Regions from separate parts of the Homo sapiens genome. Here region 2 is linked to region 1. Evidence: fine-mapped expression QTL. A gene starts in region 1. The other region holds a variant in brackets. All regions are shown on one strand. Distances are from middle to middle. Region 1 holds the start of CENPQ (centromere protein Q). Region 2 overlaps CENPQ (centromere protein Q).

Region 1 (9,909 bases):
GCCTTTCAGCTGCTTTTTAGCCAGGGCAGCCCATTCTGGGTGAAGGGGCTGTTGCTGGTGTAGAAGTCGTTGCTGTATGAGCCTGGAGCCTGATGATTCTTTTACCTGCCTCAGGTAATGAGGTGAAAGTAAAAAAAGCTGATTCTTAGCTCTTAACATGGTGGAGCATGGAAACACCCAATAGAAATAAGAACTGACCTAGAAAAAGAAACATAGAGTAAAAACATTTAGAAGAGGGGGTGGGAAATAGGAGCTACTCATAAGAAAGGAACAGAAAAGAAAGAGGATGTATTAGTCTGATTTCATTTCTTCCCCTTTTCTGCTTCCTGCACCTGATATTTTATAACTTTGGCCCCTCTTCTTCACAATTACTATCAGTCCTGTAGTTTCAGTCTTTTTCCTCAGTAGCCTCTTAGCTGGTCTTACTGACCAGTCTTACTCCTTTTCTACTCCATTCTATACGAATCCCTTCCATACAATGACATCAATGTAAATATGACTATGTCACACTCCTCATGGAATTTTTCAAAGACTCTGTATCATGTGGAAGATATACTACAGCCTCCTAATTAATTTTTTCATTCAAAGTGCTTTTATTAAATATCAGTTTATGACCGACATTATGTTGGGTAATAGAGAAAAAAGTGATGAATAAGACAAACAGGCATTCAAGGCCTTCATGAACTGGTCTCTGTTTCCCCCTCAGACCCATCTCTGTCTTTGTCCTCTTTATGCATTTTGTGCACTAGAAATACTGGATTACCTACAGTTGGCTGCACATATGTCAAAGTTTTCTGAATTTGCTCTTGCTCTTCCTTCTGCCTAAAATGTTCTTCTCTGGCTAATTCAGCTAAGGCATTATCTCCAATTTGCAGCGTTTCTATGTGCCAGTAACATAGAAGGCTATAAAGACATCACAGAGAGTAGCAATTTTAATCTTTACAATACCCCTAAGAGGTAGGTACTATTATTATCCTTATTTTACAGATTAGGAAACTGAGGCACAGAAGAGCCAGCATTGATTGGAACCTATGCAGCCTGTTTCAAAGTCCTTGCATTTAACTAATATGCACACAATTCATCCCAGAACCCATAAGGTGAGCTAAATGGCCTCTTCAATAATCTACTTCTGTGCTAGTTTATAAACTGCTCCAACATTAGAGCTGCATATTCCGGATAACTAGCATAGACTTTTATACTAGGTTGCTGGGTTCAGCGTCATCATTTTCCAGATGTAGAAACTGAGGCTCAGAGAAATAAAGTCGCTTGATCAAAATCCCACCTCACAAAGCCGTAAACTGTTTACCTGAATTACTAAAACTTGTCAGAGTCATACAGCGTAAACATATAGAGCCCATTGTTTAAAAAGATATTGAGATGCAAACATTAATATATTCACTATACTATGTGTTTTATACTGGATAAGGCAACAAGTAAAGGGAGTTTCAAATTTTATTTTCCATACCACTTCTTACCTATCAGTTTAGTAAAGCTTAAATGAAATCAATACTCAACACTTATTATGGGGTCGTTAAACAAGAGACATAAACCACTGGTGACAGTATTAACTATTTTAACTACTTTGGAAAGTAAATTGTCAATATACATGAAATGCTTCAGAAATGTTTATGCCATTCCACTGAGGAACATTACTCCTGGGAAAGCTTCTGTAGTAATATATAAAATAGATGTTTCCTATAGTTTTATTTGTAATAGAGAAAACTTAGGAAAATCGTAAGTATCTCATAACATATGAATAAGTGAATTACAGCATATACAAATGATAGAATTTCATGTAGTTATCAAAATATGTTTAGAAAGCTGGCAAAACTAATCTTTGATGTCAGAAGTCAGAAGAATGGTTACTTAATGGTTGCTAGAATACAACAGGAGCAAGAGAGGGGCTTTTGGGGGTAATGGTCTTGATCTGATTGCCACTTACATAGATATATTCTGTTTGTGGAAATTCATCAAATTATACAGTTATGTTTTATGCAGTTTCTGTAAATATATGTATAAGTAAAAAGTTAAAAATGTGTTATGCATAGTTTCCCAAAAAAAGAGAAACAAACTCAAAAAGTAGTAAGTAAAAGACTCAAGACACGTAATTGTAAGTGCAACAGGTTCAACTATGTAAAAAGTACATAGAACAAAGTCTAAATGGAAACATAACAAAAAAGGCTGGGCATGGTGGTTCACGCCTGGAATCCCAGCACTTCAGGAGGCCGAGGCAGGTGGATCACCTGAGGTCAGGGGTTCAAGACCAGCCTGGCCAACACGGTGAAACCCAGTCTCTACTAAAAATACAAAAATTAGCTGGGCATGGTGGCGCACACCAGTAATCCCAGGTACTCAGGAGGCTGAGGCATGAGAATCACTTCAACCCGGGAAGCAGAGGTTGCAGTGAGCAGAGATCGTGCCACTGCACTCCAACCTGGGCAACAGAGAGAGACCCCGTCTCAAAACAAAACAAAAAAACCTTCCATTTTTTTAATACTAGCACGATTTTTATTCTTTAAATCCATGGGGTCCTTGTCATCCATCTTTTTGCAAGCCATCCACTACATTTACTAGCTTAAAAGGTGGATGAAAAAAATAATGAAGCAACAACTAAACTGTTTCAATAGTAATCCTGTAAAAGGTAATTTGAAAACCACCTGAGACTAAACTGTTGGCAGGAAATATCACACTCATTTCACGTGGGCTTTCCTAAATCTGAACAACTAATAGGAAAGAGCCCCGTTTAAGTGACTTCCTGAAAATCACATGTGAATTGGTGGAGGCTGGAAACAGACACCATTTTTAGATAAAAACACAACTACTGCGGATGGCAATACGACCTCTGAATTTTCTCAGAAGACCATCAAGAGAGGCCTCAAGCATTCAAAGAAGCAACATGCAAAGCAAATATGTTACTGACAACTAAAATGAGTTAAAGAGCAATGATTAATCCCACCCCCACACCTCAAAAACAAATCAGTGAGAAAAAGATTTCTTGAACCAATAAGTTTCAAGCTTTGGCTGCTGACGTATGATTGCACATTAATACTTCAAGAAGGTACTTTGATGTTCAACTAGTTGGGTTTGGAGATGGAAACATAGGGCATGAAAATTATATTTGATATTAGCATAAGTACATCATTAAACACAAAATTATATTGGCAGAAAATCATCAAGTGGTTTAAAACTTTACACACATACGTTATCCAGGGCTTCGAGCTTCCCTAAGACCACCTTCTTTCTAGATAAAACTGAGAACGAGTTAGTAATGTAAGCTTTTATGTCAATTTAGACCTGTCTTTTCTATTCTACCTCTCACTCTTAACACTGTTTACACTCTTAATCCTGTTTACACACAGAAAATCACTTTTATTCCCGAAAACTCTTAGAAAAACCCTGACAATAACATAACCCACAACCTAGAAGGGAGGCAGCCATGAAGCAGGCGCATCCCTTTGGAACCATACAAAAAGTGACCTCTGCCAACGGGAACAGTTCAGGGTGCTTAAGTGGCCAAAGAAGATACCGACATGGCCCCTAAAGTATTAAAAGCACCTTCTTTCCAGAAGTACCTCCGAATTGCCAGGGACTTCGCCCAAAACTAGAGGTTGGTCGAAGTGAAAATCTAAACCTAAGGAGAAGGCAGAGAGTGGGATCCCGTCACAGTAGGAAGGTAAAGAAGACAGAAGTAAAGGACAGAGCGGGAGAGAAAGGACAAAAGTTCAAAATACAGGGGTAGAGGAGGGACAGGAGCCAGAAGAATGGAGCGATCTGAAAGGTGTACGTCCTACTCACTGGTAGGCCTGTTTTGGACTCCGCTGTGGGAGAGGGCGGCTGCACTTCTGCGTCCCCCGCCTCACCTGTCAGACATCCACACAGCCAGGCCTCCCCGCCCTCACCAAGCCCACACAAACCGCGCCACCGCCAGCGTCAGCCGGACGACTCTGGGGGCGTAGGCCGACACCGCCCTCCCTCCAGCCAATCTAATAGCGCTCTCATGGGCGCATTCCTGATGACGTTTAGGGGTAGGGTTAGATGCCCGTTTCCGCTTTCTTCCCACCCACTTCCGGGTCTCCTCTGTTTACGAATGTTTGGGCGCGAATTACTCTAAGCGCGGCTCTCAGAAGGGTGCAAGAAGAATCAGTGGTGAGTCGTGATATCCTTAACCGGCTGGGTGGATCTAAAGTTCAGGGATGAGTTTTAAAGCCAACGCGTTTGTGGCAGACTCCGCAGTTTGCATTTGAGGATAGCGAGGGGGGATTGCTTACGGGGAAATGCCCGATGTCCTAAAAGATCTGCCCTTAGGATCCTGAGATTGAGATGTTTGATTAGGGGGGAGGGAGCAAAGCCATGAATACTTCCTATTTCTCCCGAATCATCCTCATGGCTCATCCTCATTGCTAAATTTCTCCCGCGGGCACTAGTGAAGTCAAGTGCAGCCTTGGACATTAGTGTCTGTGTTTCTCCAGGAGTCCTACTCACTCTTGTGCCCACATAGAGGTCTAAATTGAGGTAATTGAGTCCCATGAGTATCAACAAGCTGGTAAGAAAAACAAGACAACCTAGAATGCCTCCCTCTCTCCTAAAGCATATAGTCTGGCGGCAAACTACTGTACCAGCCTTATTTCTTTTCACTTCTCCTATACACATTAAAAGCCTCGCTGGATTATCCTGTCCCTGAACACGCCAGGTTTTTTGTGTTTTTTCCGAGCTTTCCTGCCGTCCGAGTTTTACTGTTTTCCCTTGGATGCTTCATTTTTCTACTTTTTGGCTAAATATTTCAAAATGTTATTAGAATAATACTTTTTCTATGAATAATGTACAAACATACTTCCGAGATATTGCGGGGTCGGTTCCAGACCAATAAAGCCTGTCACACGATTTTTTTGGTTTCCCAGTGCATATAACAGTTGTATTTACACTGTATTGTAACCTATTAAGTGTGCAATAGCATTATGTGTAAAAAAAAATTACATGCTGTAATTTTAAAATATTTTATTGCTAAAAAATGCTACTAATCATCTCAGCCTTCAGCAAGTCCTAATCTTTTTGCTGGTGGAGGGTCTTGCTTGATGTTGATGGCTGTTGACCAATCAGGGTGATGGTTGCTGAAGATTGGAGTTGCTGTGGCAGTTTCTTAAAATAACAAAATAATGAATTTTGTACAGCAGTTGACTCTTCCATTCACTAAAGATTTCTCTGTAGCATGTGATGCTGTTTGAAAGCATTTTACCCACTGTAGAACTTCTTTCAAAATTAGAGTAAATCCTCTTAACCCCTACCATTGCTTTAGCAACTAAGGTTTTGTGATATTCTGAATTCTTTGTTGATATTTCAAGAATATTCACAGCATCTTCACCAGGGGTAGATTCCATCTCAAGAACTTCGCTCATTCATAAGAAGCAACTTCTTTTCCACTAGTTTTATCATGAGATTGCAGCAATTCAGGTACATCTTCAGGCTCCACTATTTCTCTTGCTATTGCCACCAGATCTTTCATCACTTCCTCCACTGAAGTCTTGAACAAAGTCATGACCTTTACAAAGTCATCCATGAGGGTTGGAATCAACTTTTTCCAGACTCCTGTTAATGTTGATATTTTGACCTCCTCCCGTGAATCATGAATGTTCTTACTAGCATTTGGGATGGTGAATCATTTCCAGAAGTTTTCAATTTATTTTGCCCAGATCCATCAGAGGAATCACTGTCTAGGGCAGCTATAGCTTTACAAAATGTATTTCTTAAATAATATAACTTGAAAGTCAAAATTATTCTTTGATTCATGGGCTGCAGAATGGATGTTGTGTTAGCAGACATGAAAACAGCATTAATCTCCTTGTACATCTCTATCAGAGCTCTTGGGTGACCAAGTACGTGGTCATTGAGCAGTATTATTTTGAAAGGAATCTTTTTGTGAGCTGTAGGTCTCAAAGATGGGCTTAAAATACTCAGTAAACCGTGCTGTAAACAGATGTGCTGTCACTCATGCTTTGTTCTTCCATTTCCAGAGCACAGACAGAGTAGATTTAAAAGAATAAGAGCCCTAGGATATTTCAGAATGGTCAATGAGCATTGGCTTCAAGTCACCACCCATATTAGCCCCTACAAGAGAGTCAGCCTGTCTTTTGAAGCTTTGAAGCCAGGCAATGACTTCTTTCTAGATATGAAAGTCCTAGATAGCATCTTCCAATAGAAGGCTGTTTTGTCTTCATTGAAAATCTGTTGTTTAGTGTAGCCCCTTCATCAATTATCTTACCTAGAACTGGATAACTTGCTGCAGCTTCTGCATCAGCACTTGCTGCTTCACTTTGTACTTTCATGTTATGCAGATAGCTTACTTCCTTAAACCTCAGGAACCAAGCTCTGCTAGCTTCAGGCTCTTTTGCTACAGCTTTCTCACCTCTCTCAGCTTTCATAGAATTGAAGTGAGTTAAGACCTTGCCATGAATTCGTCTTTGGTTTAAGGGCGTGTTGTGGCTAGTTTGATCTTCAATCCCGGACCACTCAAACTTTCTCCCTATCAGTAATAAGGCTGTTTTTGCTTTCTTATCATTCATGTCTTCACTGGAATAGCACTTTAAATTTCCTTCAAGAACTTTTCCTTTGCATTCACAGCTTGGCTAACTGGTGTAGTTTCCAGCCTATCTTGGCTTTTGACATGCCTACCTCACCTTGCTTAAACATTTCTAGCTTTTAATTTAAAGTGAGAGAGGTGTGATTTTTGCTTTCACTTGAACACTTAGAGGCCATTGTAGGGTTATTAAATGGCCTAATTTCAATATCATTGTGTCTCAGGGAATAGGGAGGCCTAAGGAGAGGGAGAGAGGCAGGGAACAGCCAGTTGGTGGAGCAGTCAAAACACAACGCAACATTTACCTATTAAGTTCTCTGTCTGATATTGGCATGGTTCATGGTGCCCTAAAACAATTACAGAGTAACATCAATCACCATAACAGATATAATAATGAAAAGGTTTGAAATATTGTGAGAGTTATCAAAATATGACACAGAAATGTGAAGAGTGAGCACAATCTGTTGGAAAAATGGCATCAATATAGTTGTTCAGTGCAGGCTTGCCACAAACCTTTAGTTTGTAAGACAACAACAACAAAATACAGTGTCTGCGAGGCTCAATAAAGTGAAACACAATAAAAAGAGTTATGCCTGTACATTCTTACCCATAGCACAAACCAGTTTAAGACAGTCATTCGCTCACTTGCCTCTTTATAACATTTATAAATACACATAGTAATTATTTTCATATCTGTCTCTACCTGTGCACTATCACTAAGCTGTGGTTTCCCTTGGATCTAAGAATGGGACAAAATACCTATTCATTTTTATATGCACTGTGAGTAGCCCAGAAGTGATAGAAACAATGTCTTTTGTTTATTGGATTCTTACTATGTCTCAAATACCGTTCTAGGTGGTTTATATATTCTTTGTTACATCATTTTTGCTTTACAAAAGCCTTTAATGTTAGTACTTTTATTAATCGTTTTACTAATGGGGAAAATGAGTTAATTTACTGGCCCAAAGATATACAGTTAATTAAGTGGCAGGGCTAGATTTGGAGCTTGAACAATTTACCCTCGTTGCAGGACTGCTCTTAACCATTATGGTAGTGTTCTCAACCTGGGTTGATTTTGACCCAGGAGACATTTGGCAATGTCTGGAAACAATTTTGATTGGCTCTACTCAGGGGTTGGAAGTATTCTAGCATCTGACGGTCTACGTAGACCCAAGCATGCTGCTAAACATCCTACAATACACACCACAGTCTCCACAACAAAGAATGATCCATCTAAAATGTTAATAGTGCTGAGGTTGAGAAACTTTGTGCTATAGTCTAGTGCCTCAAGTAGGTTTCATTGTTAACAGTACTTCTCAAACTCTGTTAGACCAGTTTTGCTTTTTATTTCTAATCAGTCATAACTGATACTTTTGTAAAATGCAATTAAAAATCAATTATTAGTCAAACTCCCTTGTGGTATAATACCAGGAGTGAACTCTGATGTAAACAATGGATTTTGGGTAATATGATGTGTCAACAATTACAGCAAATGTACCAGTTTGGTGTGTGATGTTAATACTAGAGGTTGCAGGGAATGGGGAAGGGCAGGGATTATATAAGAAGTTTCTGTATGTTTTGCTCAATTTTCTGTAAACCTAAAACTGTTCTGAAAAAAGTCTTTTTTAAAAAAATACTAATTACTAGAAAATGATATGGCAAAGACAAGGCTAATTATTTTATGATAAGGTTCAATGTGCATAAAATTACTCTATCAAATTGCTACAAAAGTTTCTAAATGATTACCTTCAATTTCCACACTTGATTATGGCAAACAGTTTGAATGAGATTTGGAGTAGCGCTAAATTACATGTTATTTTAATAAAGAATATCAAGAAGAAAATGATTAATGGACCCAAGCTATAAATAAGTACCAAATGAGACAGAGCAAAAGAGCCACAGACTTAGAGAGAAATGAAGTAGAATAGTTAGGAAGATTTTGAAAAGAAGGTGGCTCATGATCTGAGAGGGTGGGCAGAGACAGAAGAGAGCTGCTCAGGTAGAAGGTACAGTGTATGTTTGGGAGGCAGAATTACTCAAAGTGTGTTCAGGAAATCATCAAATCTAGCTAGAGAGGGAGATTTGATTAAGGAGTAGTAGGAGAGAAGTATGAAAAGGTAGGCAGAGTTAGGTTGGTAAGGACTAAAAATGGCATGGTAAAGAGTTTGAATGTTACACAGAACGTATTGGGGTAAATTTTTTACTCAATTAATTTGTTCCAAAATTTGGGATTGGGAGGGACTAGGCAGGGCTTGCTCATGTCTTGTCCACACAGTGTGGGCTGCAGCATATTGACTTAGGTACATGTACCAGACTGGCCAGTTGGTGCTGGCTCTTGGCTGGGAGCTCAGCTAAGACTTTCCTGGGGTTTCAGTTCCTCTCGGTGTTGGCCTTCCTCCTATGGTGGTGGCTGGGTTATAAGAGCAAGTGTTGGCCGGGCTCAGTGGCTCACGCCTGTAATCTCAGCGCTTTGGGAGACCGAGGCAGGAGGATCACTTGAGGTCAGGAGTTCGAGACCGGCCTGAACAACATGGTGAAACCCCGTCTCTACTAAAAATACAGAAAATTAGCTGGGCGTGGTGGGGGGTGCCTGTAGTCCCAGCTACTTGGAAGGCTGAGGCAGGAGAATCGCTTAAACCTGGGAGGCAGAGGTTGCAGCAGTGAGCCGAGATCGCACCACTGCACTCCAGCCCAAGCGACAGTGCAAGACTTCTTAAAAAAAAAGCAAGTGTTTCTAAGCAAGAAGAAGTCAAAGTTGCCAGTCTCTTCATGTCTAAGCCAGTAAGCTAGAACAGAATCACTTCTACTATATTCTACTGCTCAAACAGCTTCAGAGTCTGCCAAGATTTAAGACAAGGGAACATAGACCTTACTGCTCATTAACAATCATGAGAAGGAATGTGTACCATTTTTAATCTAAAATCTCAGCTGTTACTTGTCCCTTCACCTGGATGCTCTTATTCAGTGAACAACTTGAACTATTGTACATGTCAGCCCTTCCAGGAGAGATCTACAAGTGAAATTCTGTCATGTGGATGGGTTTTTAAGTAGGGGAAGTATAAGGGTGTAGATGTAAAGTTGAGGTAATTAGGCATTTTAGAAATTGAACACAAGATAGAGAATGAGTGTTTGGTAAGGTATCACATTGTTCAAGAGCAGGGTAAAGTGATATTTTGACTTCCACTGCTTTTTGTAACTGGTGTGATATGTGGTTGCTAAATGTAGTTTGTGATCTTTCTGTTAATTCTTTCCCAATTTTTTTTCCAGTCTTGTGTGGAGGGGAGTTTGAAGCTTTTAACGTTTGAGAGGATAGATTTATCATTGTCTTTCTCTAAATC
Region 2 (15,185 bases), 31 kb after region 1:
ACCAGCATTGGTACGTTTTGAGGAAGTGTTCATGTACATCTCCTTATTCCAGGGAAATTAGATATCCTTATAACACATTAATACCTTGACATACCAGCTTTCCAAGAAGTCTCTTTTTTGAAAGAAACAAAAGTAAATTCACCAGTTGCTTCTAAAAATGTTTTAAATATATATGGTGTTTTTTTAAAATGTGTATGTATAACAATATCTATTAGGATTTAATATAATAATGTGTTTAAGTTAAAATGTTTTTTTTCTCTTTCTGACTCAGGAAGAAATAGATAAAATGGTAGAGACCACAGAGTTAATGACTGGGAATATTCAGAGCCTAAAGAACAAAATTCAGATTCTGGCAAGTGAGGTGGAAGAAGAAGAGGAGAGAGTAAAACAGGTAATTATTTTAAACTGTATTATTGGAATTTGGATATAATTTTTAATGGTTAAATTATGCAAAGATAACTTTCGAGTATAATATGATGAGAGAAATCAGCTTTTTGAAATAATCTGTAGCTTTCTTCTACTTTAGATGCATCAAATAAATAGTAGTGGAGTACTCTCTCTTCCGGAACTTTCTCAGAAAACTCTCAAAGCACCCACACTTCAGGTAAGTGCCTATTTACCATATTGATTACAGGCATACTTTAGAGATGTTGCAAATTTGGATTCAGACCACAGCAAAAAAGCAAATACTGCAATAACGCAAGTCACACAAATGTTTTGGTTTCCCACGGCATATGGAAGTTATGTTTACGCTATACTGTAGTCTAGTAAGTGTGAAAAAGCATTATTTCTTTTTTTTTTTTTTAAAGGGACATACCTTAATTTAGAAAACGCTTTACTGCTAAAAAATGTTAACAATCATCTGCACCTTCAGCAGGTCGTAATCTTTTTGCCAGTGGAGGGTCTTGCCTCAATGTTGATGGCTGCTGACTGATAGCGTGGTGATTACTGAAGGTTGGGATGCATGTGGCAATTTCTTAAAATAAGAAGACAATGAAATTTGCCACATCAGTTGATTCTTCCTTTCACGAAAGTTTTCCCTGTAGCATGTGATGCTGTTTCATAGCATTTTACCCACAGTAGAACCTCCTTCAAAATTGGAGTCAGTTCTCTCATTCCTTGTCACAGCTTTGTCAGCTAAGTTTTTGTCATATACTATATCCTTCATTGATATTTCAACTATGTTCATAACATCTTCATCATGAATAGATTCCATCTCAAGAAACCACTTTCTTTGCTCATCCATAAGAAGTAACTCCTCGTCCATCCAATTTTTATCATGAGATTGCAGCAATTCAGGTACATCTTCAGGCTCCACTTCTAATTCTGGTTCTCTTGCTGTTTCCACCACATCTTCAGTCACTTCCTCCACTAAAGTCTTGAACTTCTCAAAGTCATCCATGAGGATTCAAAATTGAATCCATTTTTTCTAAACTCCTGTTATTGGTATTTTGACTTCCTCTTGTGAATCATGAATGCTCTTACTGACATCTAGAATGATAAATTTATTTTAATATGTTTACAATTTATTTTGCCCAGATCCATCAGAGAAATCACTACCTAGGGCAGCTATAGCCTTATGAAATGTATTTCTTAAGTGATAAGACTTGAAAATTGAAATGACTCTTTGATTCAGAGGCTGCAGAACAGATGTGTTAGCAGATGTGAAAACAACATTAATCTCCTTGTATATCTTCATCAGAGCTCTTGGGTAACTGTGAACATTTTCAATGAGCAGTAATATTTTCAAAGGAATCTTCTTTTCTGAGCAGTAGCTCTTAACAGTGGGCTTAAAATATTCAGTAAGCCATGCTCTAAACAGTTGTACTGTCATCCAGGCTTTGTTGTTCCATTTACAGAGCACAGACAACACAGATGTAGTTGATTTAGTAGAATTAAGGACCCTGGGATTTTCAGAATGATCAGTGAGCATTGGCTTCAACTTCATGTCACCAGCTGCATTAGCCCCTAACAAGAGCCTAACAAAAGCATCTCCTTTAAAGCTTTGAAGCCAGGCATTGCCTTCTCTTTTCCAACTATCAAAGTCCTAGAGATAGCATCTTCTTCCAATAGAATGCTGTTTTATTTACATTGAAAATATGTTGTTTACTATAGCCACCTTCACCAGTGATCTTAGCTAGCTAGGTCTTCTGGGTAACTAGCTGTAATTTTTCTATCAGCACTTGCTGCTTCACCTTGCACTTTTTATGTTATAAACACAGCTTCTTTCCTTAAACCTTATGAACTAACTTCTGCTAGCTTCAAACTTTTCTTCTGCAACTTCCTCACCTCTGTCAGCCTTCATAGACTTGAAAACAGTTAGGGCCTTGCTGTGGATTAGGATTTGGTTTAAGGGAATGTCGTGGCTGGTTTGATCTTCCATCCAGACCACTCAGACTTCCCATATCAACAATAAGGCTGTTTTGCTTTCTCATTATTCATGTATTCACTGAAGTAGCACTTTAAATTTTCTTCAAGAACTTTTCCTTTGCATTCACAACTTGGGCGTTTGGCACAAGAGGCCTAGCTTTTGGTTTGCGTGGCTTTTGATAGGCCTTCCTCACTAAACTTAGTAATCTCTAGTTTTTGATTTAAAGTAAGAGACATGATTCTTCTTTTCACCTGAACACTTAGAGGCCATTGTAGCATTATTAACTGGCCTAATTTCAATATCGTTGTGTCACAGGGAATAGGGAGGCCCAAGGAGAGGGAGAGAAACTGGGAAATAAATGGCCGGTTGGTGGAGCCGTCAGAACACATAACAATTACCAATTCAGTTCACTGTTTGATATGGTTGCAGTTATGGCACCCAGAACAATTACAGCAGTTCCATCAAAGAACACTGGGCATAGATCACCATAACAGATACCGTAATAATTTTTAAAGTTTGAACTATTACAAGAATTACCAAAATGTGATGTAGAGATACAAAGTGAGCATGTGCTTTTGGAAAAATGGTGCTGATAGACCTCCTTTGCACAGAGTTGCCACAAACCTTCAGTTTGTAAAAAATGCAGTGTCTGGGAACACGGTAAAATGAGGCATCCTGGTATATCATAGACCAATTATACATTACATATATGAAAACATTATGTCCTATTTCGTTCTTTAAACAAATGGAACCTGATATAAACTGTTTGGCAAATTACTTTTCTCATTCGACTGTATAGTTTGAACATCTTGTCAGTCACGTAGATCTCTCATTTTTGTTGATAGCTATGTAACATTCTGTTGTATGGAGGTCATATAATTTGTAAATTACTGATGGAAATACATAATTTTTTTAATACAGGTAAGACTGGGTACACCCTTGTACATATGTCTTTACTGATTTGTATAGTCATAATTGTAGGATACATTTCTAGAAGTAAATACTGACAGTTTGGTTTTTTTAATGCTTCTAACAATAGCATATAACTCCTTATAAAATAGTACTGTCTTATTTGTAGTAAACTATTTCTTCCAAGGGCTCTAGTAGACATTGTAGTATAAATGTTTGTAGCATTGGAAAGTCTTCATGTTTTCTCAAGAAGTAATTTGAAATTTTCCTATTGGCTGGGCACAGTGGCTCACACCTGTAATCCCAGCACTTTGGGAGGCCAAGGCAGGCGGATTGCCTGAGGTCAGGAGTTCGAGAACAGCCTGACCAACATGGAGAAACCCCATCTCTACTAAAAATACAAAATTAGCCAGGTGTGGTGGCACATGCCTGTAATCCCAGCTATTCGGGAGGCTGAGGCAGGAGAATTGCTTGAACCTGGGAGCTGGAGGTTGCAGTGAGCCAGGACTGCGCCATTGTACTCCAGCCTGGGCAAGAAGAGCAAAACTCCACCTCAAAAAAACAAAAACAAACAAACAAACAAATCCTATCATTTACCAGTGGTGAAAGGAGCAGGATGGGGAGAGGGAGAGATAGATTTGAAAGAAGAATGGCGATTCGTTGACAATTATTGAAGTTGGATGATAGATACTTAAGGTTTATTTTACTGTTCTCTCTAACATACATTTGAGATTTCTCATAATAAAATGTTAACAACTACATTTAATACTATCTTTCCCACAGAAAGAAATTTTGGCGCTAATTCCAAACCAGAATGCTCTTCTAAAGGACTTGGATATTCTTCATAATTCATCACAGATGAAGAGCATGTCAACCTTCATTGAAGAAGCCTATAAGAAACTGGATGCATCTTAAAGAGTGTTTTTTTTTTAGATTGTTCCATATTAATTTAATGTTCGTGAATTTGTAAAACTGTTAACCTATGATTATATGTACAGAGGCTAAGGCTTCTGCAGGATTTATTATCTCCTGATATGCACTTTAAAATTAGTCTTTGTAGTTCTATCATTAGCATCTA[A/G]TGTAGTTCTGAAGACTGTTTTTAGCAGTTGCCAAATCTAGGAAACTAACATTTATATTGCTGTATCTATAAGTATTTGCCTAAAACCATAAAATAGGAATTGCCTTAAGGATCTAGTAGTTTATAATGCCTGAATGGAACTCATTTATTGGTTAACAGCTCATATCAGGAGCTGTGATAAGTAAGTGTTTACATACACTGTCTAGTGCATAAAAACCTTAGTGTTTGCTATCATTCATTCTGTAGCCAATGGCTTACAGTTTCTGTCTGGTCATCTGGAACTTGAAAAATCCTCAAATGCCTTCACTCTTTTACCTAACTCCCTAGTCTTTTTGGGAAGTAGTTAAGATATGCCTGCTATCTTTAACTTTGGAGGTAGTATCAAAATTTTACTTCTTTGGTTGTTTAGTGAATTAATGTTGAATATTTTCTACTGTCATCAAAACATATTCCCAAAAAGTATTAAAAAGGAACCTTAGCACATTTATTTTATTAAAACAAGAAAACCCAAAATATATAAACCTTTTCTTATTATGATAATAAGCTTATATATGTGAATAAGTTATAACCTAGTGTATAAAAAATTATTTCTAACAAACTACAGTATACTGTCTTGGGTTTTTTTTTTTTTTTTTAGTCTGTAAAATAAAATGACTGCAATTACTTTTTTATGTGACCTATAATATCAGTTAATTTGGGAGATGCCATAATTCTGTTAACACCCTTCAGGCAGAGACCACTGGCAACAAACCTGTAGTTAAACAAGTTGGGTTTTCAGTGTAGTGAGGAGATCACACATGAGGACCCTGGGGCAGCTCAAGAAAAGGGTCACAAGCAATATCCTCATAGGAATAATGGTAAAGAAGGCCTATTAATAGATTTTGGAGGAAAATAAAATCTCAAAGAAAAACCTGGCAAAGTGACTAAAAGTAAAGATTATTACAAAATGTCTTAAAAACCCTTCACTTGGAAACTTAAAGCTTCATGTTTTTAGAATGAGTAGTAGAGCCCTAACTCAGTGATTTTTAACACTAATGTTATAGTAGCTTTTGGTGGTGGGGGAGGAATTATGTATGCCATTTCTCTCAGGGCATCTGTTTAACAGATAACTGATAGTTAACTGGGATTTTAACTTACCATTGTTGCTGAGTGATACAGTTCTTCACCCTGTGTGAACTGGCCATACTACTCTTGTAGCTTTGAAGAGTTTATAATCTAACTTTAAGAGATCTACAATATCTTCTGGTAGGTAGCATCCAATCCAAAACATACACAGTATTTTCTTTAAATAAGACTGCATTTTGGTGTACTCTTTGGAAAGAATTTAAGAATTAATTACAGATCTGTTATGGTTTGCCTAGGGTTTATTTGGCCCCACCAACCTCATGTTGAAATTTGATCCCCAATATTGGAAGCGGGGCCTGGTGGGAGTTGTTTAGATCATGGCGTGGATCGCTCATGAATGGCGTGGTGCCATAGATGCTGGTGCCATGCTTCTTGTACAGCCTGCAGAAACATGAGCCAAATCTCTTCATTAATAAATTACCCAGCCTTAAATATTCCTTTATAGCAACACTAAACATACTAAGAAAATTGGTATTCAGGAGTGAGGCATTGCTCTAAAGATGCCTGAAAATGTGGGAGTAGCTTTTGAACTGGGTAATAGGCAGAGGTTGGAAGAGTTTGGAGGGTTCAGGAGAAAACAGGGAAGACAAGGGAAAGTGTAGAACTTCTTAGAGATTGGTTAAGTAGTTGTGTACCAAAATGCTTATAGAAAAAGAGACAGCAAAGGTCATACTGAGGAAGCCTTAGATGGAAATGATGAACTTATAAGTTACTGAAGCAAAAGTCACACTTGTTACACCGTAGCAAAGAACTTGTCTGCATTGTGTCCATGCTCTAGGGCTTTATGGAAGGCTTCATTTAAGAGATGGCCTAGGGTATCTGGGAAAAGAAATTTCTAACCAGCAAAGTGCTCAGGCTGCTGCATGGTTACTTCTAACTGCTTACAGTAGAGACCAGAGGAAAATTGGAAAATGTGCAGCCTTGCCTTGTGTTAGAGAAGGAAAGAAGAGTGTTTTTAGGAGAGGAATCTAAGAGTATGACCAAGCAGCAGCAATAGTTTGCTAAAGAGATGAGCATGACTAAAAAGGGCCAGGTGCTAATAAGACTATGGAAAAAATGTCTCAAAGCTATTTCAGAAATCTTTGCCACCCCTCCCATCACAGATTAAGAAGTTTAGAATGAAAGAATGGCTTTTTGATGGGGCAGGTGATACTGCTCCCCACACCCCAGCGGCACCAGCTCAAAGGGCCTCAGGCTGCTGCTCTGGAAGGTGTACCCAGTAAGCCTTGGAGACTTCCATGTGGTGTTAAGTCTGCAAGCATGCAGAATGCAAGAGTAGTGGAGACTTGGCAGCTTCCACTTACATTTGAGAGGATGTATTAGAAAGCCTGGGTGCCCAGAAAGAAGGCTGCCACAGGGTCTGAGAGCCTCTACTAGAGAAGTGCCTAGTGGAGCAGATGGAGCAGGGGCACCACTCTCCAACCTCAGAATGGTAGAGCCACCAACAGCTTACAATCTCAGCCTGGAAGAGCTGCAGGTATTGGATTCCAACCCACGAGAGCAGCTACGTGGGCTGCACCCAGCAAAGCCATGGGGATGGGGATGCCTGAGGCTCTGGAACCCACCCCTTGAACCAGTGTTCTTAGGATGCGGGACATGGAGTCAAAGCAGATTATTTTGGAGCTTTAATATTTAATATCTGTCCTGATAGGTTTGGGACTCACATGAGGCCTATTACCCCTTTCTTCTGGCCTATTCCTCCCTTTTGGAATGGGAATGTCTGCACCACCACTGTATCTTGGAAGTAAATAACTTCTTTTTTTATTTTACAGGTTCACAGTTGTAAGGAACTTGCCTTGAGTCTCAAATGAGACTTTAGACTTTTGAGTTGATGCTGGAACAAGTTAAGACTTTGGGGGATGGAATAATTGTATTTTGCAATGCAAGAAAGACATGAGATTTGTTTTTCATGCCACCAAATCTTATGTTGAAATTTGATGCCCAATATTGGAGGTGGGGCCAGATGGGAGAAATTTGGGAACAGATCCCCCATGAATGGCTTGGTGACATTCTCCCAGGAGTAAATAAGTTCTCTTGGTTCCCATGAGAACTGCTTGTTAAAAAGCCTAGCATCTCCCCATCTCTTTCTTGTTTTCTCTCTCACCACATGATCTGCAAATGCCAGCTCCCCTTCACATTCCACCATGAGTAGAAGCAGCCTGAGTCCCTGGCCAGAAGCAGATGCTGGCACCGTGCTTTTTGTGCAGCCTACAGAACGATGAGCCAAATAAATCTCTTTTGTTTATAAAATACCCAGCCTCAGGTATTCCTTTATGGCAACACTAAAGAGACCCAAGACAAGATCCAAATAAAATTAAACTGCCGGGCGCAGTGGCTCACACCTGTAATCTCAGCACTTTGGGAGGCTGAGGCGGGCAGATCACCTGAGGTCAGGAGTTCGAGACCAGCCTGGCCAACATGGTGAAACCCCGTCTCTACTAAAAATACCAAAATTAGCCGGGCGCAGTGGCGGGCTCCTCTAATCAGGAGGCTGAGGCAGGAGACTCGCGTGAACCCGGGAGGCAGAGATTGCAGTTAGCCCAGATAGTGACACTACACTCCAGCCTAGGTGACAGAGTGAGACTCCATCTCAAAAAAATAAAAATAAAGAAATAAATAAACTTTGACTATACATGGTCCCAATAATTCAAATAACAGTCCTCCTCTGTAGTGACCTCAGCCATCTAAGTTCTCCCATGCACAGCCCATGCCAACTATGATACATCTCTTCTCTAGTGACTGATAAATGCCAATGTCAGAAACTTAAACAATAACAAAAAAAATACACTTTTGAGATAGAGGATATATTGTATTAAAATGTAGCATATGATAAAGATGGCATTTCAAATGAAATACAGAAAAATATTTATTAATAAATGGTCTTCATAAAACTGGCTAACTACATAATGGAGGGTGAGAGGATGTTTAATATTCCTACTTTATGCCTAAGTACATTCCCACTAAATAAAGTTAAATATAAAAATAGAAGCTAAAAAGAAAGAAATGAACAGTGGATGTCAGGGTAGCAAATGCCCTATTATGCATATAAGCAAAAGTAAAATCATGAAAGATTATTACATAATATTTTGAACTTTTTGAAATAAGATTTTTAAAAATACAAAACCGGCCGGGCATGGCAGTTCATGCCTGTAATCCCAGCACTTTGGGAGGCCGAGGTGGGTGGATCACCTGAGGTCAGGAGTTCGAGACCAGCCTGGCCAACATGGTGAAACCCTGTCTCTACTAAAAATACAAAAATTAGCCGGGCATGATGGTGCATGCCTGTAATCCCAGCTACTCAGGAGGCTGGGGCAGGAGAATCGCTTGACCCTGGGAGGCAGAGGTTGTAGTGAGATGAGATCGTGCCACTGCACTCCAGCTTGGGCAACAGAGTGAGACTGTCTCAAAAAATAAAAAATAAAAATAAAACAAAATCAAGCCAAAGACACATCACAAATAGGAAAATATCTACAATATAAATAAAACAAAGAAATAAAACTTTTTTAAATAAAGAGCTCTGAAATATCATTAACAAATAGGTTAAATACAAATAGGAAAATGGGCAATTCTCAAAGGAAAACATCCATAAGTATTTGAAAGATGATCAACCTTAACTTCACCATTTAAATGCAAATTAAAACATATTTTCACCTATCAAATTGACGAAGACGGGAAAAAGCTGAAAGAAAATTGCTGAACATACTGAAAAATGGGCACCGAGTACTTGTGCTAAAGGAAGGTGAATTGGTAGAACTGTTTTGAGAGGCAGACTTTACAGATATGTTGCAGAACCTTAGTGTAATGTCGGCCACTTCAAATTCTTACTTTATATGAGCCCTTTGATTTTCCCCAACTCCCAGTTGGGCATATGTTCAACAAACAGGCTTTGTTTAAATACGAGCCACCTGCACTGGAACCTAAAATTAAAGGATTTACTTTTGTTTATTTGGTTGGATAGAATTTCTTGGCATTCCCTGTTTACCAAAAATATGCAGTTGCACCTGTCAAAATTAGTATTTGAGTTATACGGGTTGGCTTAGTTTCTAAACATAAGTCTAAATCCTCTCATGTTTCATTCATTGTTAAGAAATATTTAGCTTTGAGAGAGAGAAGGGAAAGAAGGCAAGCAAAAGCAGAGAGAAATTTTAATTTCTCAGTTGGGTTTTATTATGTCAAAAAGTGAGCTATTTTTGTTTTCTAATTCGCAATTTTGGTTAAGAGTTGTTACTAAATGTGTTTCTTCACAACTAAGCCACCATAGAACCAATTTTTCTTGACTTAGGTGTTTGCTGTCTTATTAAAGTAGCCTCTGTTCTTATCAGGGCTGTGAAGTTGCTTTAGCAACCATCTCCAAAATTGGATATAGTAGTTGTTAAAACTAGACAAAGAAGAAGATAAAAGAGGGACATTTTCTGAATTCATTAGAACTACAATAGAGCACATTTTTAAAATTAAGTTGTTCATTTTTTTTAATACTTTAAGTTCTAGGGTACATGTGCACAACGTGCAGGTTTGTTACATATGTATACATTTTTAAACTAATAGAAATAAATGTGCCTTAGCCAATTTTGCCCCATTTCTACCCCCTAGAGTTGTCCTTAAAATTACTGTAAGTTTTCAAATAGTACAACAGGGATATAAGACAGTCATAGCAATGAGAAAAATGGCTGACATTTATTGAGTGCTTGCTACATGCCAGGTACTAGTCCAATGCCATTACCTATATACATGTATTTATGCCAATGTTTAATCTTAATGGAAACCCTATGGGAATTAAACCTCATAACATTCATTATTATCTCCATCCTGCAGGTGAAGAAACTGCGGCACAGGGAGGCTAAATAACTTGAGATCACACAGATAGTAAATGATAGAACAAGGAAGTGAAAAAATAATTGAACCTTTTCTTAGGAGTTTTCTGATAAACTACAAGTAGAAGGGGCTAGTGAATCTAATGAGTAACCCCTATTACAGCAAAGTACAATCTGATGTATTTTTCTGAGTAAAGTGATAATATGTATTGCGGATTTGTTCACCTGGGTTTTCAGAAGACAATTCCTTTAAATTAATCTTACATTGGGAATCTCCTTTTTTCCTCCTTTTTCCGTTAATCTCAGAGTTAAAAGTTTGCCTTAGCCTAATATATATACATATCTCAAATTTAATTACCTTCAACCATACTTTCCAGGAAAAGGAATGTTTTGCCTTTTTATTATTTTTTTCTTCAGGCAAAAATTAGTTCCAATTAGTTCTGATGTTTTATAAAGAACAAAGAGCTCAAATTTCTGTTTTAAATGCACTTGGAAACAAGACGTAATCTAAATTTGGGGAGACTTTTACATGTCTCAGAGTTTATAAATAACCAGACCCCAAACTTTTTAAAGTTTCCCCTAGGATATTGCACTTACTGTCTAAAGGAGTTCCTGTTTTGCAAATAAAAAAAAAGCTTAACTTTTAAAAAATATATTTTACTCAGTTAATATTTAGAAAACTATATTTATATAGGCTCCTTAGGTCCAAGAGTAGGTATACTTTGTTCTCAGTAACATCTTTTAAAAAAGAAGTTATCAATGTATACAGCAAGATCAAAAACTCTTATTTTGACATCTAGTAATTGACATCTAATACAATTTCTCCATTTGCTGTCAACTACTAGCTGCCCATTGTATTACAAAGCTCAGTGTCCTCTAGTGAAGAATGCCCTACCTTACCATTTTATGAGACCTAAATGTGGTAAACAGAATCCTCCCATCTAACCACATTCAAACTGAAGCACTCTGCATATGCCGTTGAGACATTTGTGTTGCATATTATTTCAAGATGTAGATATTGAGTGCTGAGATGTCCAAGTAAATACTTACATGGTGGTTAAAATTGCAGTCTTTTGAAAGAAGTGAGTAAACTCTGAATGACTTTTCATTTAAAAGAATAGGCTGAAGTAATTAAAATTCTTGAAATTACTCTCATGTACTTATGTATCCTCTGTAGAGATTACCCCCTTTCAGCCTTGGAAGTTTAGGGCAGCAAAATCATTTTCTTCAGAATATATAAAAAAATAACTAAAGGGTCAATACCTTTATATTACTTTCTTATCGTACTACCATTTGCCTGGGCTCCTCTTCTTTTTATTCTCCTTCATGAGATACTGATTAATAGACAGGTTTTATGGCTAGAAAATACCTATCTCTAAATCAAGATTAGTATTCATTGGCTTTTACACCATAAGGCTAAATGTGATAAAAAGGAAGAGATGGAGTGGAAATGCCTGTGCTCTATGTGAGATGATTTTCACCTGATCACCATCATAAACTCCTCCCCGTCTACAGGTGTGGGCACTTTTTTTTTTTTCTCTCCCTCCTGTTTCCACTAAGGGCTAATTAGAGAGGTAGCCTTGAAGAATAAACTTACCATTTATATAAAAGGGCTACTGGACTGATACACAGCTGAAAACCCTCAGTTCTGGACTGAACTCCCAGCAGGTAAACATTTATTCATTAATATAATACATTTCAAGTCATAGTTTATAATTGCAGAAAGGGATGGGAAAAATAGAGAAGAGATGAAATCCAACCTTATACAGAACGAATACATTGTAATTAGGTTTCAAGGAAAGATATATTTTGTTTTGTTTCTTGGCGTGTTTTTGTTTGGGGTTTTTTTAACTCCTAAATTTTGATATGAGGAAAATTTTTACTCTTAAATTTTGATGTGAGGAAAATAAGTATTACCAAGTATAAATTTGTTTGCATTGTGATATGGGCACAACTAGAGCAACCTCTCTGAACAAAAATCCTAACATATGAAAAATAATTACTAGCATTGGATTCCAAGTGCTTAAAAAAATGTATTTCCTCATTAACAAATGCCCACCATTATATTGTAAATATTGTATTACATTACAAAAACAGAGATCTTATGTTTTATTGCTTATAAGACTTAAAAGTCTCCCAGGAGAGTGTCATGCTTTCATTGTTATGATAAATATTAATGAATAAAATATTTTAGATGCTTGCTCTGTGCTTATAAACACTCAAATGCCCCCAAAGAAACTTCAGTTTCTAAAACTTACATGAGCATAATTCTTTTTCTTGACAAATACTTTCAAACAGTGAGTCTATTGGTTATAATTTGGTTAAAGGAGTTACCAACCTTTAACTTCCAATTCCAGAACATACTGATTATGGACAGTACTAATCAAGTGGTAAGGATATGACATTCTGCTCTTGTAGCTTTCAGAGTTAATCGTCATTATGACTCTCTAACATGTTACAAAAATGTGTAGAAAATATTTTCTGCATCAATGAGAATTTCTGCTCTACCTTGTGGCATTAAAAAAATTTCTATTTAATGAAAGATCCTTATGAAATGAATCACTGTTTACTGAAAGGGTATTGTCAAATGTAGATTAATTGTAGTGTCCTCTCTGCATGAACCCATGGGGGAATGTCTCTGATTTTAGTTTGTCACCCTGAGTAATTTGTGAGTTGCATGAGTATAGTCTAGAAGGGTAAGTTGAAGCCAATTAAGTAGAGGTTTTGCTATTAAGAAGCTGGAGGCCAGGCAGGGTGGCTCACACCTGTAATCCCAGCACTTTGGGGGGCCAAGGCAGGTGGATCACATGAGGTCAGGAGTTTGAGATCAGCCTAGCCAACATGGTGAAACCCCCCATCTCTACTAAAAATATAAAAAAAACTAGCCAGGCGTTGGTGGTGTGTATCGCGGGAGCTGGCCAGCAGCCCGCAATGCAACGGGGCTCTCTCTTTGTTCCTAGGTGGATTGGCAGGTCGAGAAATAAGAGACTCACACAAGATAGTGAAAGCAGGTCCCGCGGTGCCGCCAATGCACTGACTATACCAGCATTTATTATTAAGTTTAGTGAGGGCAGCGGTAGGTTAGTGAGGGATTTAGGGTCATTTGATTATGAGGTGAGATGGTCACATGGGGATGAAGTAATTCTTTAACATAATATCTGTATGCAGAAGTACAGTATACAGAGATAAGAATTTACAATATAGTGTGTGCATCAGTAATTTCTAACAGAGCCTTAAAACAGAAACACAGTCTTTCCATAACCTATGATTAGCAGGATATTAATCAGCAGTAACAGTTGCAGCAAAAGCTGGTTACAAACAATCCATAGAAACAGGATGTGAAGCTAGACAACTAGTTAGACCAGAAATCCTCAGAAGGAAATATGTCTTAACCCTAAAGAGGCCTAGAAGAGCTGTGGCAAGATGAGCGTGTTATAGCCCTATCTTATCCATATGGACAGGCACCCCTCATTCGTCCATTTATAGGCTATCCACAAGGGTCGCATTCCATTCCCAGAGCTATGAACATCTGCTTTTCTGGGATAGGAATCTTGGTGATGTGAAACCTCCCTGAATGCACATCCATTCATAGGCTGTCTGCAGGGGGAAGCACATCACGTGCTATTGGTTCATTCTGGCAGTCCAACCTGGCATTGTCTTTACACAATCCTGCATGCAATTTTGTATTTACAATAATCAGGAGCATTTCATCTTTTACTCCATAGCAATAGTTTCAGGGGGTCTCCCTACATCTCCTCCTTTTCTCTGATTTAAATGAACCATAGCAATCATAGCTTGGCACTGATCATGATTGGATTGAAGAATATTTTTTCCAATTTTGTATATGAACAATAAACCAATAGCACAAATTATACATAGAACAAAATTAACAATAGTGGATCCTCCCAAGGATTTTACCCATTGAATGGGGTTGAGATTAGATAACCCCTCAGATACACCGTCTAAAACTTCAGCACTGGGTAAAGCAGTTAAGTGTGCTTGACAGGCCTCAAAAATCTGTGCTTTTAGCTTGCTTATGTCTAAACTTAAATTATCTTCACTTCCTTGTAAATGGCATTTTACTGATTCCCAATTGTGAACAGACTCATTACATTGAAACGGATTTATAGAAAATCAGAAGTATTCCAATCACATTGCATTTGAAATCTATGTTCTAAACTTATAATTCTTATAATTCTATCTCCCATCCAGATAACAGTTTGTCAGGTTATTAATTTGATTGGCCAATTTTTGATCAATACCTGACTGAGAATTCCACATCCAAGTAGAATCTTTTTGCCATTTATCCACAAAATGAACAGTTTGAATAGATTGATGTAATGCAACTCCAGCAGTAGCAGCAGTCACAGTAACAGCAATCAAACCATTATTACTGCAATTAATGTAAAAATAAATAATTTACTCCTTTTAATAATTTTCTGTAGAATATTATTAATAACATGGATAGAAGGGGAAGATTCCCAAGGCCTATGTAAGGCTACGGGAAGCCAAATACCTTCTCTGGCTCTGACTACTAAAATACTATGATATTGATTAAAGGATGAGTCAATCCAAGCATACAAGTAACAACTAACACATGTAATTATGTTGGTTTTTGAACTAATATGCATCTTTCCTACTAATAACATATATGGTGGTTTAACACAACTTTTAAGTGGTATAGTTTTATTGGACTCCATATAGATAGTATATTTATTTTGGGATGGTACTCTTTTTGTGAATGCATGGTGGGGGGAATAGGTTGTATGAGAGGTGGTGTGGGGACATTAGCAAAGGGGGGGATATAAGTCCTCATCATCTTTACTGTCCCATCTTTGAATTGACCTTTTGACGATTGCCATAGTGATATTTTTGGCTGTGTGAAAATAGT

The links.
Region 2: its variant is fine-mapped to the expression of CENPQ in fibroblasts (GTEx, PIP above 0.99). The same link has a PIP of 0.9 or more in subcutaneous fat and tibial nerve.

Annotation. Positions count from the first base shown.
Region 1 is chr6:49,459,308-49,469,216 of GRCh38, forward strand. CENPQ (centromere protein Q) reads left to right here and starts at 4,063. Exons shown (of 9, transcript NM_018132.4): 1 at 4,063-4,146. It overlaps MMUT (methylmalonyl-CoA mutase), which reads right to left and starts at 3,946. Exons shown (of 13, transcript NM_000255.4): 1 at 3,796-3,946; 2 at 1-198. The coding sequence starts at 159. RefSeq lists enhancers at 3,129-4,029, 3,616-3,685, 4,030-4,929.
Region 2 is chr6:49,488,081-49,503,265 of GRCh38, forward strand. It overlaps CENPQ (centromere protein Q), which reads left to right. Exons shown (of 9, transcript NM_018132.4): 7 at 272-391; 8 at 527-604; 9 at 4,064-5,027. The coding sequence ends at 4,195. It overlaps GLYATL3 (glycine-N-acyltransferase like 3), which reads left to right and starts at 11,843. Exons shown (of 6, transcript NM_001010904.2): 1 at 11,843-11,962. The variant A/G (reference allele first, on the strand shown) is at 4,359.